2 linked regions of the Homo sapiens genome follow. The protein of the gene in region 1 purifies or fractionates together with the protein of each later gene. This does not show direct contact. Each region holds a gene or a part of one and is shown on either strand. Other genes may lie near its edges. The genes, in order: PPP1R1A and JMY.

Region 1 (7,548 bases):
TTTAGAGGCTTGGAAGCAAGTGGAAGGATGGGGGTTAGAGGATGACCCTCTAGGTTAGCAGTGGGGAGGGAAGGCAAATGGGGCTGGGAAAAGGGCTAGAATTATCCTGGGCTGAGAGGAGTAGGATGAGGACACTGAATGATCAAACCCTTATCTTTGCATGTCCATTATTTAGAATCATCACCACTGGCCGTGGGGGGATGACAGAGGTGAACACTGCCCCTCTCTATGCCCAGAAAAGTGGGGGGTACTGGCTATGGTAAGATGGGCTGTTTAAGCCTGAGGGGGGAACTCTTTCCAAAGAAGAAACAGGATGCAAAGAATGGGGGTATGTGGGGGTAGGGCATCATTTTCCCAGGAGAATTCAGTGGCATCTGTTTTTGGTGACATTGCAAGGTCCCCGCAGTACCAGTCCTTTGTGTATGTGTGTAAGTGTGCACATGGATGAGCCGCACAGACATTAACTGTGAGTCGTCTCTGGTCATTCCTGATACACATGGGCTGGGGACCATCTGCTTCATGTATATGGGGTGGGGGCCATCCTTCAACTAGAAGACTCCTCTACTTCTTTCCATCCTGGAGGGGCAGGGTGTGGTGGTGGTAGTAGGAAAGAGACAAGGAGGGTGGAGTGGCGATCAGTGGGTTGAGATAACATCAGAGTGGGGAGCCCAAGAAAGAGACTGCAAGTATGACAGAGGGCAGCAGGGCTGTCTGGTCTTGGACACATCACTTCCTTGACCTATTCCTTTGCTTTGGACAAGGTTTCTAAGCATTCAGAGTCCTTGGGAATCGTGATACCCTTACAGCAGGAAGGAGGAAAGTCAGACTTCCTGAGGTACCTCCCAGGCACCTGAACTAGTGGGAAATAAGTAGATGGTCTCTTTTCCTTTTCTCATACCTATCCCAAATCCTAGCTCTCAGGAGCATGTGATAACTTCGCCTCGGATTTCTTTCCAAAGCAGTCATGCCAAGGATCTGGAAGCTGTGGGCACCCCTCCACCGCCTGCCACTCTGTGCTCTATAACTCAGAGCTTCCAACTCCTTTTGCCCTCCCATGTTGGTCTGGGTTAGGAGCACCTGCCAAGCCTGGAGCTTTTTGCCTAACACAGCAGGAGGGGCTGAGGTTAGGCCACAGGAAGAATTTCAGGCCTAAGAGACACAAATTCTGAAGATTAGTGAAAGTAGGCCCAAGTCCCGGCTCTCTTTTTTCCCTCTGACTCCTCAGGATTGCCTTGTGCCCCTCCCTTGTCTCCTAGATCCCTGAACCAGCTGGCCTTCCTCCTCCTCCTCCCTACCCACCTACTACACCTGCCTCCTCCAACACCCAACAGATACAGGTGTCGGGCCCTGTCTGTGCCAGTGGGAGGCAGTTCTCCTTGGAACTGCATCCCCAACCTCCACAGTCCAGACTCTTGAGCCCTTTTTCCTGGGTCTGAGGTTATCCTGGCTGATGCCCTGCCTCCAGGCATAGCAGCCTTTCCCCTGACTCCCAGGGAACACAACCCATGCTGATGGCTCTCCATCCTCCTCATCCTCTACAGATTTGTGAGGCTTCACCAAGAGCCTTCCCGTAGTCACACCTTAGAGCTCTGAGGTGGTGGCTCACCCCAGGCCAGAGAGAGGACGGAGACGCAGGTACCTAACCCTATCTCCACATTGGGAAGCTGAAGTGGTAGGGAGAGTGTGTACCCCTGCCCGCTTCCCTTCACATCAGACCTTATTCTACCAAACAGCTGGAGCAACAAAAATGACAAAAAACACTCTCTCCACCTCATCCCAAGAGGTCACAAAGTTTTTTTCAGGTTGGGGGTGGCCAGCCAGAGCCTGGCAGCTTGTTGAGAGAAACAGAGAACTGACCTTGTGGGAAATTGATATTCTTTAGGAATGGGAATGTCTAGGCAAATGGACAGAGATTACAAAGAGATGGAGCAATAGGCAAATAAGCAAATATTTGGCAAACAAGGAGTAGTAAGGACCACGGGTGGCCACCCTCTCCACACATACGCTCACTCTCACCGAGGCATACACTTGCTCACACACTCTCATACACTGCCCCCTCTGCCAGGCTGCTCTGAGCTAAAAATAGACCAGGCTAGGAGGCTGGGCCAGGGCCCTGGACTCCCACCCCTTGAGCCAAGGCTGTCACAGTGCTTCTCCCTTGCATATTGTTCAGCTTGGACCCCAGCCCCTGGAAAGACTCCACCTCTGGCCTCCCAGTGCTGCTGGCTCAGTCCCACCTGGACTCCCCACTCCAAAGGGCAGGAGTTGGGAATAAGGGCCATGTGCGGAGACTTGAAGAAGGGAGCCTCAGCCTACAACTCGACCACCCCTCTCCCCTCTCCCTGGAGCCCCAGCCCTCTCAGTGGTCCTCAGTCCCTTCCTGTTATCACTTTCGGAGCCCAGCAAGGTGGCCCCCAGTTAGGAGGGGACAGGGAGAGCTGTTTCTCCTCTTCCAACTCCCACCCTTCCAGGCTCCCTCTCCATTACCGACCCCTCCCCAGGCCCCTCCCGCACTGCTGCTGATTCCCTTCAGCGCCACCACCAAGCTCAGAAACTCTAGTGGGGGTTGACTGGGTGGGGGATGCAGGGTTGTTTAAGGAGGGAGGGGTCGTGTCCTCAAGCAGGCCCCCTCCCCCAGGACTGGGGAGGAAGAGAGCGACTCTCGCGGGGCCAGGCATCGAGTGGAGGCGCTCTTCCTTCGGTCAGTCTCAAAGAAGCACAGATTCGAGATGTGGCTCCGACGGTGGGGGAGGGGACAGAAGACCCCCCCCCGCCCCCCGCAAACTGAGCGTTCGTCCTCAAAAGGGCGCACTGCTAAGGGAGGACTAGGCAGGGATCCTGGGTCCCACCAGTCCAGGGGTCCCTCGTCCTTGGCTGGGCGAGTGCCCTGCCGCCCCGCCCTGCTCCGCACCTGCTCCGCCGCCTCGGGGTCAAGGTGCGGCTCCAGCAGCGGGACCGTGAACTGGATCTTTCGGGGGCTGTTGTCTTGCTCCATGGCTGGGGCGGCGGCCGGTGGGCCCGCGCTGCGGCGGGAGGGAAGGCGGCGGGACTCGGGGCTGGGGCGGGCGCGCTCCCTCTCCGCTCCGCTCCGGCCCCGGCCCCAGCCCGGCGCGCTCGGCTCCCGGCTCCCGGCACAGCGCTCCCAGCTCGCGGCTCCGGGGACTCTGCCGCCGCCGATTGGCTCCGCACCCGCCCCTCCCGGCCCCCTCCCCCTCCCCCAGCCCGGAACCTTAACCCCGTCGTGGCTGCACCGGCGGCTGCGGGGGTCACCGCCCCGCGGGCCGCCGAGTCCGGGCGTGGCCCGGGAGCCGTCGTAGTGGACAGCTCAGGCAGATACCTCAGTGTCCTCGGAGTTTTGGGCAGGGCGTTGGGGTGGGGAGTGGCTAGGAAGAACTTCTCCTAGCCGGAGCAGGTTGTTGGGGCTAGGAAAGTAGAGGGGCGCTGCAGGAGAGGAGACTAAACGCGAGAGGAAGATTGCATTTATGATTTTAAAGGGGGTTGTATTATAGAGAAAAGATGGAAAGGGGATTTAGGCATGCAGCAGGAGGGATTAAGGTTAGACTTCGAGAGGGACTTTCCTTTGCAAGGAAAACACTAGGCGGAGGTAAAAACTTGGAGGGAAATACGAAGTCTGCACACCCGTCCTGTGTTCCCTCAGTGCCAGGGAGAGGAAACTGAAGACTTCAGAGGGTCTCCGGAGGGCGCGTTTCTCTCGAAGTGCCTGTGGGAGTGGGTGGAGGGCTTGGGGAGAGAGGACCATCTGGGACTCGACAAAAGGAATAACGATGGTGGGGAGCCAATCCTGCTTGTGAAATCGAGTTCTCTTTCTGCTTGCTAAATTAGGGGATGGTAAAGTAGGTGAAAGGCCTGCAAGGGGAAAATGCCTGGGGAGGGAGAGAGAAACTCCTTTGGTGGGGTGGCTTGTTTACAGATAGGGTTGGTTTCTAATTTCACTATTGGCAGGATACTGAAAACGAGCTGCTGTAACTGAAGGAATGGAGGTTAGACTATGGGAAGAACTGACTAGTTTGGTGGAAGACTAAGATGCCAGTCAATACGAGCCAGTGAGGGAGACAGGATATTCACAGGAGCTGGTGTGCTCGGTCTAAGGACTGGGGATCACTAGATGGGGGAGGGGATGTGCTGGGCACTGGGGAGGGGTAGGGCTGGATGCATCTTTTCGGGAGGAGAAGGTGGAGAGAAGAACTGGGGATGGGGAGGAGGGCACAGGGAGTCCTGGAAGAGGGGAAGGGGTCTGTCTCTTTAGCCTTAAACCAAGCAACTGGCAAGTGCCATACAGATTCATGCCTGGTTCTTGGAGAACCATATGGTCATCTTCTCCTCTAAGGTGTCAGCCTCAACTCTCAGTTGCCTCCTCTCCTGGGCAGCCCTTTCCAGACCTTGATTTCACAAGGCCCCTTCCCCTCTAACCTCACAAAATAACTTGTCCTGCCTTCCCCCCAGCCATATCTTTTTACACATGTCGGGCTCAGTTTTCTCAGGGTAAGGCTGGGGTTATGGGGACCCAGTGGGCCAGCTGGACCTCTGTCTGCAGGTTAACTGGCCCCTGTTTTGCTGTCACCTGGACTCCAGGATTGACTCCTGACACCCAGCCTGCACTTGCAGGGCCCCTTTGCTCTCTGGTGTGGCAGGGCCAGGTGGAAAACAGCTGGTTGGGCTTCCCCGTCTCCATTCCCAACCTTTGCGCAGATCCCCCCACAAGAAGTGACAGTGGAGAAAGAGATCGTGAAGGCCCTGAAGCAGAGAGGATAACGGTTGGGGGCTAGGGAGATACCTGGCTCATTAGGGCCCAGTTGCTTGCTCTGGCCTCCTTCCTACTCACCCCACCTCCTAACCACACATCCACAGAGCAGGATCCCAAATATCCTCTAAATAGGTGACTTGTCTATTCCCCATCCCATTCTACCAGGACCATGGGATGTGAAGCCAGGATTCCCACATCCCTATGTCTGGGGACTCAGGCTTCTCTCATGAGCCTCCATCTCATTTGTAAAACAGACAGAGGATCCCACCTCCTAGGGTTGAGTATCATCTTGGGTAGAGTACCTGGTGCATAGAAGGTCACGGTTAATTGTAGCTGCTGGTTTTATTGTTATTTCCTGGCAGGACGGCAGAGTTGAGGGGTGGTCACCTCTCAGAGTGGTTACCTCTCCACCCCCACCCCAGACATCCAGGCTGCCTAGTCCTCTTTCGTATTCCGTGCTCTCCCTCAAACTTTGGTCTGGTCATGGAAATTCCTCCCCAAGTCTCTCACCCACCCTATGTTGCCTTCTCAAGTCCCGGATTCTCAGAGTCCTTTGTCCTGAAAGCCACGGGTAAGGAGAGAGACCAAGAGAGCTTGAGCTCTGGAGAGATGGCTGATGAGGGGCTGCGTGGGAAGAGGGGTCCCGGCAGCAGCTGGTGCTGGGGTAGAGGCAGCGGAGGAGAGAGGAGGGAGAGGGAAGAGGGATGGCTCCCAGTACTGGCTTTGGGAGGAGGAGACTGGGGAAAGTGGGCGAAGCGTTTATGGTTAGCAGGGAGGTGGAGTGTGGCTGGGTGCAGCCTTTGGTGCCGGGTAAGCTGGAATGGGTCTGTCTGTGAAGGTGTGTGTTTATTGTCATTTTGACTTTTATTTATGTCCATAGCTATGTGAGTGCCTGTTGGGCCGGTGGGTGTATGAAGGTATGGGTTGCTCACACACAGGCCTGGGGCACTGCAAAGGGCCTGATGCCTGCTCTTGGAACCTTTCCTAGAGTGAGTAAGAGTTAGAGCCTGCCTCATCCCAACTCCTTCCCTCAGCTTGCATGTTTCTATGTTAGGCGCCTGTGTTCACAGCCCTGCTGCAGTCACAGCCTGGGCTGGAGGAGCAGCAGCTGTATGTGGTGCACTGCTGGCTCCATGAAATATTTAAAGTTACAGGGATGTGACTGGGTGATGCAGTCACTTAATGACTCTCACCCTCCCCTATTTTCGGCACTGGACTCTGGGTTAATGGGGCTGCTCTTTGTCGCTGTCAGCACTTTCTGTTTTTATCTATCCACCCTTCTCACCCCTACTAACCCTCACAACCACCCAGGAGGGAGGACAGGTATTAGGGTGTTTATTTTGCTTCTCGAGGGGAGGGTAGTGTAGAGAGGTGTTGCTAAGATGGGCCACCTGGGCCAGGATATGAAAGGTCAGGGTTCAATTCCTCCATCTGCTATCAACTCTCTGGGTGACTCTGGGGTTGCTCCCCCAACCCCCAACCGGACTCAGTTTCCTAATCTTCAAAATGAAGGGGACCGGGTGACTTTGCAGGTTTCTTCTGCTCTAATATTCTGTTATTCTGAGTTGAGGGTGCTCCTGTCACACAGCCAGCATGTCTCAGAAACAGGGTTAGAACCCAGGAGCCCCAGGACCTTATCTGTATCTTTGCCTTTCTCCCTGCCTGGGCAGTGTGGCAGAGGCACACTCCGGCTTGTTGACAACATGATGCACACACACTTTTTATACACACAGCTCTGAGGAGATAAGGGCAGAGACTGCTGTTATGCACCCAAAGGAGCAGCGACCCCATCCAAGTGGTCCCCCAGGAAGCCATATGCTCATGCCAACGTGCTGCAGTTTCTCAAACATTTCTGGAAACTCTTGGAATCATCTCAGAGCTTGAGGCATATGCTCTGAAAATCCCCATGGGGGGTGAATCATTGTCTTTTAGGGTGGCTTTGCTCCTTTGGAAATGACCAATAGCCTTTAGGAGCCAACCCTTGTGAAGACAGAGGGAGGCCAGGTGGGGAGTAAGCCTTCATCTGGAAAAGAGATGTAGGTGCCCGGCAGTGAGACTGTTTGTCCTGCGGGGTTTTGAGCCCATCTAGAAGACTTCCCTGCAAGAAGTTTCCAGAGCTTCTCGTGAGCCCCAGAAGCAGCATTGGAGGAGATGGGTGGCCTCCTAGGGGATGACTTGGAAGTCCAGCCTCCTCTGACTGTGCAAGTCCTGGTTTGCCTGTGAGAAAAGCCCAGAGTTGCAGTTCTGTCAGGCTTGAGTGCACACCCTCCCTGCAGCTGGCAGTCTTGGGAATGGGGCCAGAGCTGGTGATTCAAACAGAGGGGATGCTCATTTTCAAAGTGCTTTGCCTCTTCATGAATCCCCAAATCCACTGGTAGGGTGAAAGAGACTTCAAGAACAGCCAGTTGAACCCTTCAGGCTAGAGAGGAGAAATCAAGGCAATGGGGAGGAACAGCTCTTCCAAGGTCCAGAAGCCAGGCCAGCACTTTCCCCAGTAAACCAGATTTGGTGGCCATGGCAGGGTAATGGCTGAACCTAAAGCAGGGTCATGGACTAGATGACCTCTTGAGATGCATTTTTTTTTTTTTTGAGACAGAGTCTCGCTCTGTCACCAGGCTGGAGTGCAGTGGCACGATCTCAGCTCACTGCAACCTCCGACTCTCTGGTTCAAGCGATTCTCCTGCTTCAGCCTCCCGAGTAGCTGGGATTGCAGGCACATGCCACCACGTCCAGCTAATTTTTGTATTTTTAGTAGAGACGGGGTTTTCCCATATTGGCCAGGA
Region 2 (7,697 bases), on another chromosome or scaffold:
TTGCAGGTTTGCAAATTCCGAGTCTCAAAAGTACTGCACTATACACCTAAAAGTAATATATAAAATACTCCTAATATTCCTCAAAAATGTGCTCTTCTGAAATCTTATTTACTTTTCATTCTCCCCTAAAACTGTTCTATAAGACCTGCTGAAATCACTGCAATGTTTTTTTTTTTTTTTTTTTGAGACGGAGTTTCACTCTTGTTGTCCAGGCTGGAGTGCAATGGTGCCATCTTGGCTCACTGCAACCTCCACCTTCTGGGTTCAAGCGATTCTCCTGCCTCAGCCTCCCGAGTAGCTGGGATTACAGGCGCGTGCCACCATGCCTGGCTAATTTTTTGTATTTTTAGTAGAGACAGGGTTTCACCATGTTGGCTGGTCTCGAACTCCTGACCTCAGGTGATCCACCCACCTCAGCCTCCCAAAGTGCTGGGATTACAGGCATGAGCCACCGCGCCCAGCCTGCAATGTTTACCTGGTTGGTGCAGATTGGAACGTGAAATGAAGCTCACAACCAGGGCTGACACAGCAGTGGGTTTCAATTACCACTGTCACGGGGAAATAGCAAAGGCACATAATTATGTGAAAGCCAGGGCTCTGGATGGCAAGGTAACTGTTCTGTTGATGGACAACGTGATAGAAGGTCCTGGGTTCTTGACTTACTGTGGATACATGCCTGTCTGAGTTTCTTTAATGTGCAAGAGCTATCTATTTCAAAAAGCAAAGGTATTGATTTTCTGTGGAATGAGGAAGTGGTAGCCTTGGAATGTGGTGAAGAGCAGGAAGGTGGGTTCTCAGAGAACATGACATACTTTTATAATACTTGAGCTTAAAGCGAATCAGTACCACACAGTCATCAGTTTGGTCTAGGTTGGAGAGCTAGTTCCAGATTCCAACTCTACACTTACAGTGACTAGAAACAGCTCCACGATAGTTAACATCTGGACTAGAGTGCAAAACATTTTTTAAGACACAGGAAGAATCACATTTCCACAAAATGAGTCATTCCAAATATCAAGAATCAAACATTCTAAAATGTAATCAAAGTTAAATAAAGAAATAACAATCTATAAAATTCTTTAAGGTCAGAATCAGGGCTTGTAAAAAACATCGCTGGGCCTCCTTAAATAAAAAGGGAGCCAGGAATCACATTATCAGGGATCCTGTAGTCAAGGCCTTTAGCAGAGTCACCATTAGTGTTTCTAGAGGTAAAGAGAACATCACTATTGGCTGTTCCAATGTGTTTAAGAGGGCAATTCTCAGAGCACTATAAACGCATTGAGCACTGATAAGAGATAGTGCTTACTTAGTTTTAAAACATAAGCAAGTTTTAAAGACAAAACAGATGAGATTAGTAGATACGGATAAAAGACTAAATAATGAACAAAAGCAATATTTAAATACCTTTTTATTTCTGAGGTAGGATTTCTTGGCAGAAACCCGTCCACGTCTTGCTTCCAGCTGGCGTGCTTTCTGCTGAAGTTTCTGCAGCTCTTCTCTCTGTAAGTACGCAGATGCTGCCATCTCTTCCTTCTCCAGCATGGCCTCCATGCTTTCGTAAGTGTCATAGTATACCACTTCATCTCTTTTTTCTGTTACAGAACAGCAAAAAAGAGTAGTGGTAAAGAATATGGGCTAGGGTTTGGAAAGAACAAGGTTCTAATCTCATTACTGGCTCTGCAACCTCAGGCAAAGCCATTATCTCTTAAGCTTCTTTGTAAGTGGTGATTATTATTTAATACACCTCATAGAGTGAATGTATGCAAAGTGTTTAGCAGTATCTGGCAAACAGTAAGTGCTCAATAAATGCTAGAAATCACCCCCCCACACTCTATCCCTACAGAAAACAATTTTTTAAATGTCTTAACAAAAGAAACATACCTAGTCCATAAGTATTTTCTCATGTATTCAATCTTTGGTGAACTTATGTGGTTAAATGCACGCCATACCTGATATAAGTCTTTTGATGCTTTCTAGTTGCGCTGTCAATAGTAACTCTTCACACTTCAAGATTTCAAACTGTACTTCATACAACTGAAGTTGCAGATCATAATAATCAGCTTCTAACTGATCCAATCGTGCTATCGCTTCTGTACCACCCCGCAAACTCTGCATCTGCATTGAAAATACAAATTAAAAAATTTCTAGCTGGTGGGGACAAGAAAATTGAGTTAGTATTAAAAATTAATACTAATCAGATAGCATAAACCTATTAAGTAATTCCTCTCAGAAAGAAACTTGTAGGCATGGAATCTAGACTTTAAAAATATATATATATATATGTATAAAACAGTAATAATCAAGTCATATTATATGGTGGAAGTAGGCAAACATGGTAAAAATAAGGTTTTAATGTTTATGTTATACTTATGCATATTTATGGTAATAATATATGTATCATCTGGATATAAATGCTTTCCCTCTCAAAAGTGGATGCTAAGTTATGTAGTTGTTCTTTTCACAGAGATATATGAAAATGACGGGGCTATTCTCAGATATTTACAAGAATGGTAAAAGCTGGTTAATGCCACATATCTGGGGTTTTGCTTTGCTCCATGGTCACAGACTGGCTAGGTTCTGGGATCTGCTGACTATAGAGTGAGGTGAGAATATGTGACTGGAACAGCAGAAGACAATTGCTTTAGATGGAAATCCTTGCAATCCGTAAGGTGTCACTTTAGGTAAATGTAATCAACGTCCTAGGCTGAACTTAAAGTGAGATCCAGAAATTTCTGGGCATGGCTCATAAAGTGAAGGATGGTCTTCTGTGAGGTTTGCTTGGTTGGTCAGTTCTCGGTGCTGGAGTGGGAAAATTTTTGCCAGGAATGAAGGAAACCACCAAGGGGAAAGTGTACTTTAGATAACTGGTTCCTAACCCTACTATTTCTATGGCTTTCTATTTGGCTGTACGGAAAAAGGCAGATAAAAGAAGCCAAAGGAATGGCTTTTCAAGAGTCAGTGAGATGTGAAGGACAAGCATAGTTCTCTAGAGTGAGACAGTAAGCATTCTTCCAAGAACATAGCACCACTGCTTTGGTAGTTTAAAGGTTCATGCTTAGCAGCTCCAGGAAAGCCCCGATACGGGCATCAGTGTGCCCTCAGAGCCAAAGGAGCAATAGTGAGGAGCCCTGGATTCAAGTGGCTTCCCAAGGAGTGACCTTCAAAGGAGGAGACGAGAGGAACAAAAGGGAAAATTATTAAGAGTATTGTTTACGAGCTCATGTGAGACATCACTGGGGTCCCAGAATACCAAAGAAATACTTGACTGGCTGTACAGGGACAACCTACAGGGAAAAAGACAGTGAATTCTTATTTTCCTAAATGATCCCTTTTGTCTGGCGAGGTTGGTAAAACCTGTCAGCACATAAAAAGAATACGTTTTAAAGAAAATTCCAGCTTTTGCTTTACAGTCTATATATCTACACAGTCTTACCCAATAATTAGAATATTTTTCCTTAAAATATAATTTCAAATCCCTTTCACAAGAATTTTGAACTGAAAAGCAATGGTTAGGCTCCAGTCTAAACGTGCAGTTGTAAAAATTTAAAAATAACCAGGTGAATTAAATACAGTGGTACTTTGTTTTATGAATATTTTATAAACGGATACTTAATAGATTATCTAAGTGTAAGACTGTGAGTGATCCCGCTGTGTTAGGAAATATTTTATGGGTGACAAACAACGTATATAACCCCAAAGTGGGTTTAATTATAGCAGCTAGGGAGGGGAATGTGAACAATATGAACTGTTGTTTTTGTCCTAAGTCATAAAATAAGAACCAAGGAATAATGTCTACCTTGAGACTCGTGGACTCGCCACTTTAGATGATAAACATCCCTTTTCATACTCTCTTGGGGCTCTTGCCCAGCTCTGCAAACACAGCTGTAGGATATACATTGTTCCAGTATCTGCACCCACACTCTCTATTACCACAGCATACAAACAGGTAAGATATCTAATGTTAGAAGGCTTTATTCTCAAGTGGGGAATCGTTAAGTTAAAACCTTAGTGTAAACCAGTCTAAAAACCTTAATCTAAGATTACTTTCCAGTGATATTGTTCAGATCCAGGCTGTGAGTTCATTTTCACTACTCTGGTTCTACCCAACTAAGTGACCATTTTCTGCTACGTTCATGATGCTCTGCTAAGTTCTTCCCCTAGCACTCTGTAAGTTTCTCTCTCCTGCCCAATCTCTTGGCTAAGGAAAAAAGTTGAAAGTCCCCCAGTGACATGCCTTTACGCTGTCAGCTTTCTCAACCACAAAGAGAACAGTACTCTGACTGCAGCCCAGAGCCAGGGTACTTTAAAAGCACTTGAGAAGCGCAGTGCTACCAGCACACACTCAATATCAAAAATCAAACTGAGAAAGGAAGTAGGTATTCTCTTACAAGCAGTGACCTCACCCTCAATTTTTTGGTTCGGTGAGTTCTATCTAGACCAAGAGTCCAGACGTGGATTTGCCAAGGGCTGTGGTCTAAAGATAACCAAAACCTCATCAGAGGCAGACAAGCAGTGAAGGAGTCTGTTAAATCCCAACCTCTGAAAGGACAAACAATAGGTCAGTGGTGGACTTTGGGAAAAGCTAAAGGGTTGTAGAACCAGAACATACAGGACTTTTATGAGATCAGCAAAGGAGAAAAGGATGCTATGACTCAGAGAAATCTGTGAGGGCAAAATAATACTCTGAGGTCTATCTAATCTTCAATGTGGAGGCAAAATCCTTAGTATAAGGCATGAAGAGGTATGGAGCGGGCACCCTGCTCCAAATTTCCTCCCTGTTTTAACATCTGAAATTTCCAGACTGAGTTTTCCTGTCCTCAGCTGACAGCCACAGAACTAAGAGAAACAGAATCCAGGGTGAAAAGAGAACTAATTCCAGATAATGGAGCAGTGCAGGGAAGGTGGGTGCCACAATGGGGTGTCTTTTTTATATCTGAGAGCAGTGCTTCCCTGGGCAAGAAGAAAGAAGCCCTGAAAGTAGTTTAAATACTCAAAGGAAAAATTGGCCATCTTAAAATTTAACTTAGCTCAACTTTTACTCTCCTAAACATACTTCAAGTATCAGGATACCAGTACCCCAAACCAAATTGTAACCTCCCAATGTGATCCAGGTAATGACTAGCAAAGTTTGAGCTAGACTCAGTTCTCCTGATTCCTACAAGAGTGCTCTTTCCACTAGAAAAAATTAGGGATTACCAGCCCAAAAAGACGGAAAAATATCAAAGTGTTATTGTTATTGTTTTACAGCAAATCTAGTAAGGGGATGAAGTACCAATTCATGTCCATACATCCATGTAAGTACAACATACCCTGCTGACTCCACAATCATTCTCACCATGTGTAATAATGATAAAGTAGTTTTCATGTATACCTATTTTGACTGTACTTTATCATGAAACCAGATGGCACTTTTTGCAAACTATGCAAATGAATTATGCCCTTGTTCTGCCTTTTACCCTACTGTGCTAGAAAATTCCAATGACATTAGAGGAACTATTAAAAGAGCTACCTGTGGACTGAATCATTCATTCAAAAAATACTCACTGAGCATCCACCACTGTTTGAGTTACAGAAAATATGCAGTCAACAAGAAATGAAATGAGGGTTCGAAAATAAGTCATAGCTAGGCATAGTGGCATGTGCCTGTAATCCTAGTGACTTAGGAGGCTGAGACAGTAGGGACTCTGAGTCCCAGGAGTTTGAGCTTGTGGTGAGCTATGATCGTGCCACTGCACTCCAGCATCGGTGACAGGGCAAGGCTATATCTTTTTTTTAAAGGGTCATAAAAACCTTGGACAGCATAAGGTGAATGATGTTAAGGGCAAGTTTTCAACCAAAACTAGCCCTATTATGTAGAAAGAATGAACATGAGAATTAGTAACAGACAAGCCTGAGTATAAATACAGGTTTCACCAGTAACAACTGCACAAATATGGGTAACACAAGTTGACAGAATTATCTGAATTCCACATGTCAGAAATCCTGGAAAATGGAAAATTCCCATAATTTAATGTCAAACCAAATCTCACAATCCATTTGTGGAAAAATGTGATCTGAACTTTTCATAAACTATTTTTAATCCTTAGGTATTCCATTTAATGTGACCATGTGTTTCATTAGTGGACTAATAACACTTGTCTGAAGTTATATGCTCTATCTTACCTTTCTAAAATCTAAAAAAACCCTGGGATTCTGAAATATATCTGTCTTCAGGGAATTCAGATAATGGTTTTGGGCTTATAGCATAAAAGGTTATGTTTGAGAATTTAACAAGATAATACACATAAAGCACTAAGGACAGGGACTAAAACATTTTAAACTTTAACTGCTGCCAAAACAGAATTCATATGGTGAAAACAGAATTTAAGATAAACTAAGGCCTTTAGAGTGGAACCTACCTTTTTGTATTTAGACTCTTTGAAATATATAGTGTGCACCTATGGAATAATCTACTTATTGACAAATAAAATGAAAACTAAAAACCAATCTCCTTGCCTGGACAAGGACCTCAAAAACCCCACCTCAGCTCAGACTCAGGCTGTGTCTACCACATCACAGCTTCTTACTATTGGAAGTTTCTGGCAAGGCCCATACAAAATGTCACATCACCTAGTCAACAGCATGCTTTGTGAACCCTGAAATGTTGGTTGAGGCAAGTAAACATCTTAAGCATGGAAATTATGTATCTTTTTCTTCTCTGTATTCCCTTCTGGGATACTGGCACAAAACATAACATACAATTATAGTAATAATCACTAATATTTATCCAGGTCTTACTCTATGTCAAGTGCTATAGCAAATGCTTTATATGCATTAACTCATGAAATCATAACATTCCAGAAGGTATATAATATTTACATTTCAAAGACAGGTTAAGGAACTCACTGAAGCTTTCCTAAAGAGTTAAGTTTGCAGAACTGAGATCTATAGAGGTGCTCTGTTCAGTAAGGTAGCCACAAGCCACATGTGGTTATTTAAATTTAATTTAAAATGCTGTTCCTCTGTTGCATAAGCCTCATTTCAAAAGCTCATTAGCCACATATGGCTGAAAACTACCCTACTGGAGAGGGTAAACATAGAACATTTCCATGATTACAGGGCGTTCTGCTGGACAGCACTGTCCAAATCCTAAGCTCATATCCACCATGGTATATAATCAATGCTCAATAAATACTTGACGAATTAAAACTGAAAGAGGGGAATATAACCTTAGTTAATCATAATTTAGCTACATGCTTGTAGGAGAAAGACAAAAATAAGTAGCTAATCTTCAAGACTAGTATGCATTCATATTCTATTAGATTATGTATGTTCAGAGAAATTATCAAGGAATTATAAATAGATGGGGAATTGTTAAAATCCTCTGCCAGGGAAAGAAAGCACACTGATATACCTTTTTTTTTTTTTTTGAGACAGAGTTTCACTCTTGTCGCACAGGCTTGAGTGCAGTGGCATCATCTCGACTCACTGCAACCTGTGCCTCCTGAGTTCAAGCTATTCTCCTGCTTCAGCCTCCCGAGTAGCTGGGATTATAGGTGCTCACCACCACATCTGGCTAATTTTTGGTATTTTTAGTGGAGACAGAATTTCGTCATCTTGGCCAGGCTGGTCTCGAACTCCTGACCTCAGATGATCCGCCCGTCTTGGCCTCCCAAAGTGCTAGGATTACAGGCATAAGCCACTGCGCCTGGCCCTGA

What was found.
Region 2: the proteins of PPP1R1A (region 1) and JMY purify together in Homo sapiens (affinity purification with mass spectrometry; 3 studies listed by BioGRID and IntAct, with this or other methods). This does not show direct contact.

The regions. Positions count from the first base shown.
Region 1 is NC_000012.12:54,585,494-54,593,041, forward strand, and holds the start of PPP1R1A (protein phosphatase 1 regulatory subunit 1A), read right to left. Parts: upstream 3,167-7,548; 5' UTR 2,996-3,166; coding exon 2,912-2,995; intron 1-2,911. UniProt on the Homo sapiens protein: Inhibitor of protein-phosphatase 1. This protein may be important in hormonal control of glycogen metabolism. Hormones that elevate intracellular cAMP increase I-1 activity in many tissues.
Region 2 is NC_000005.10:79,294,571-79,302,267, reverse strand, and holds part of JMY (junction-mediating and -regulatory protein), read right to left. Parts: intron 2,116-7,697; coding exon 1,950-2,115; intron 1,593-1,949; coding exon 1,405-1,592; intron 1-1,404. UniProt on the Homo sapiens protein: Acts both as a nuclear p53/TP53-cofactor and a cytoplasmic regulator of actin dynamics depending on conditions. In nucleus, acts as a cofactor that increases p53/TP53 response via its interaction with p300/EP300.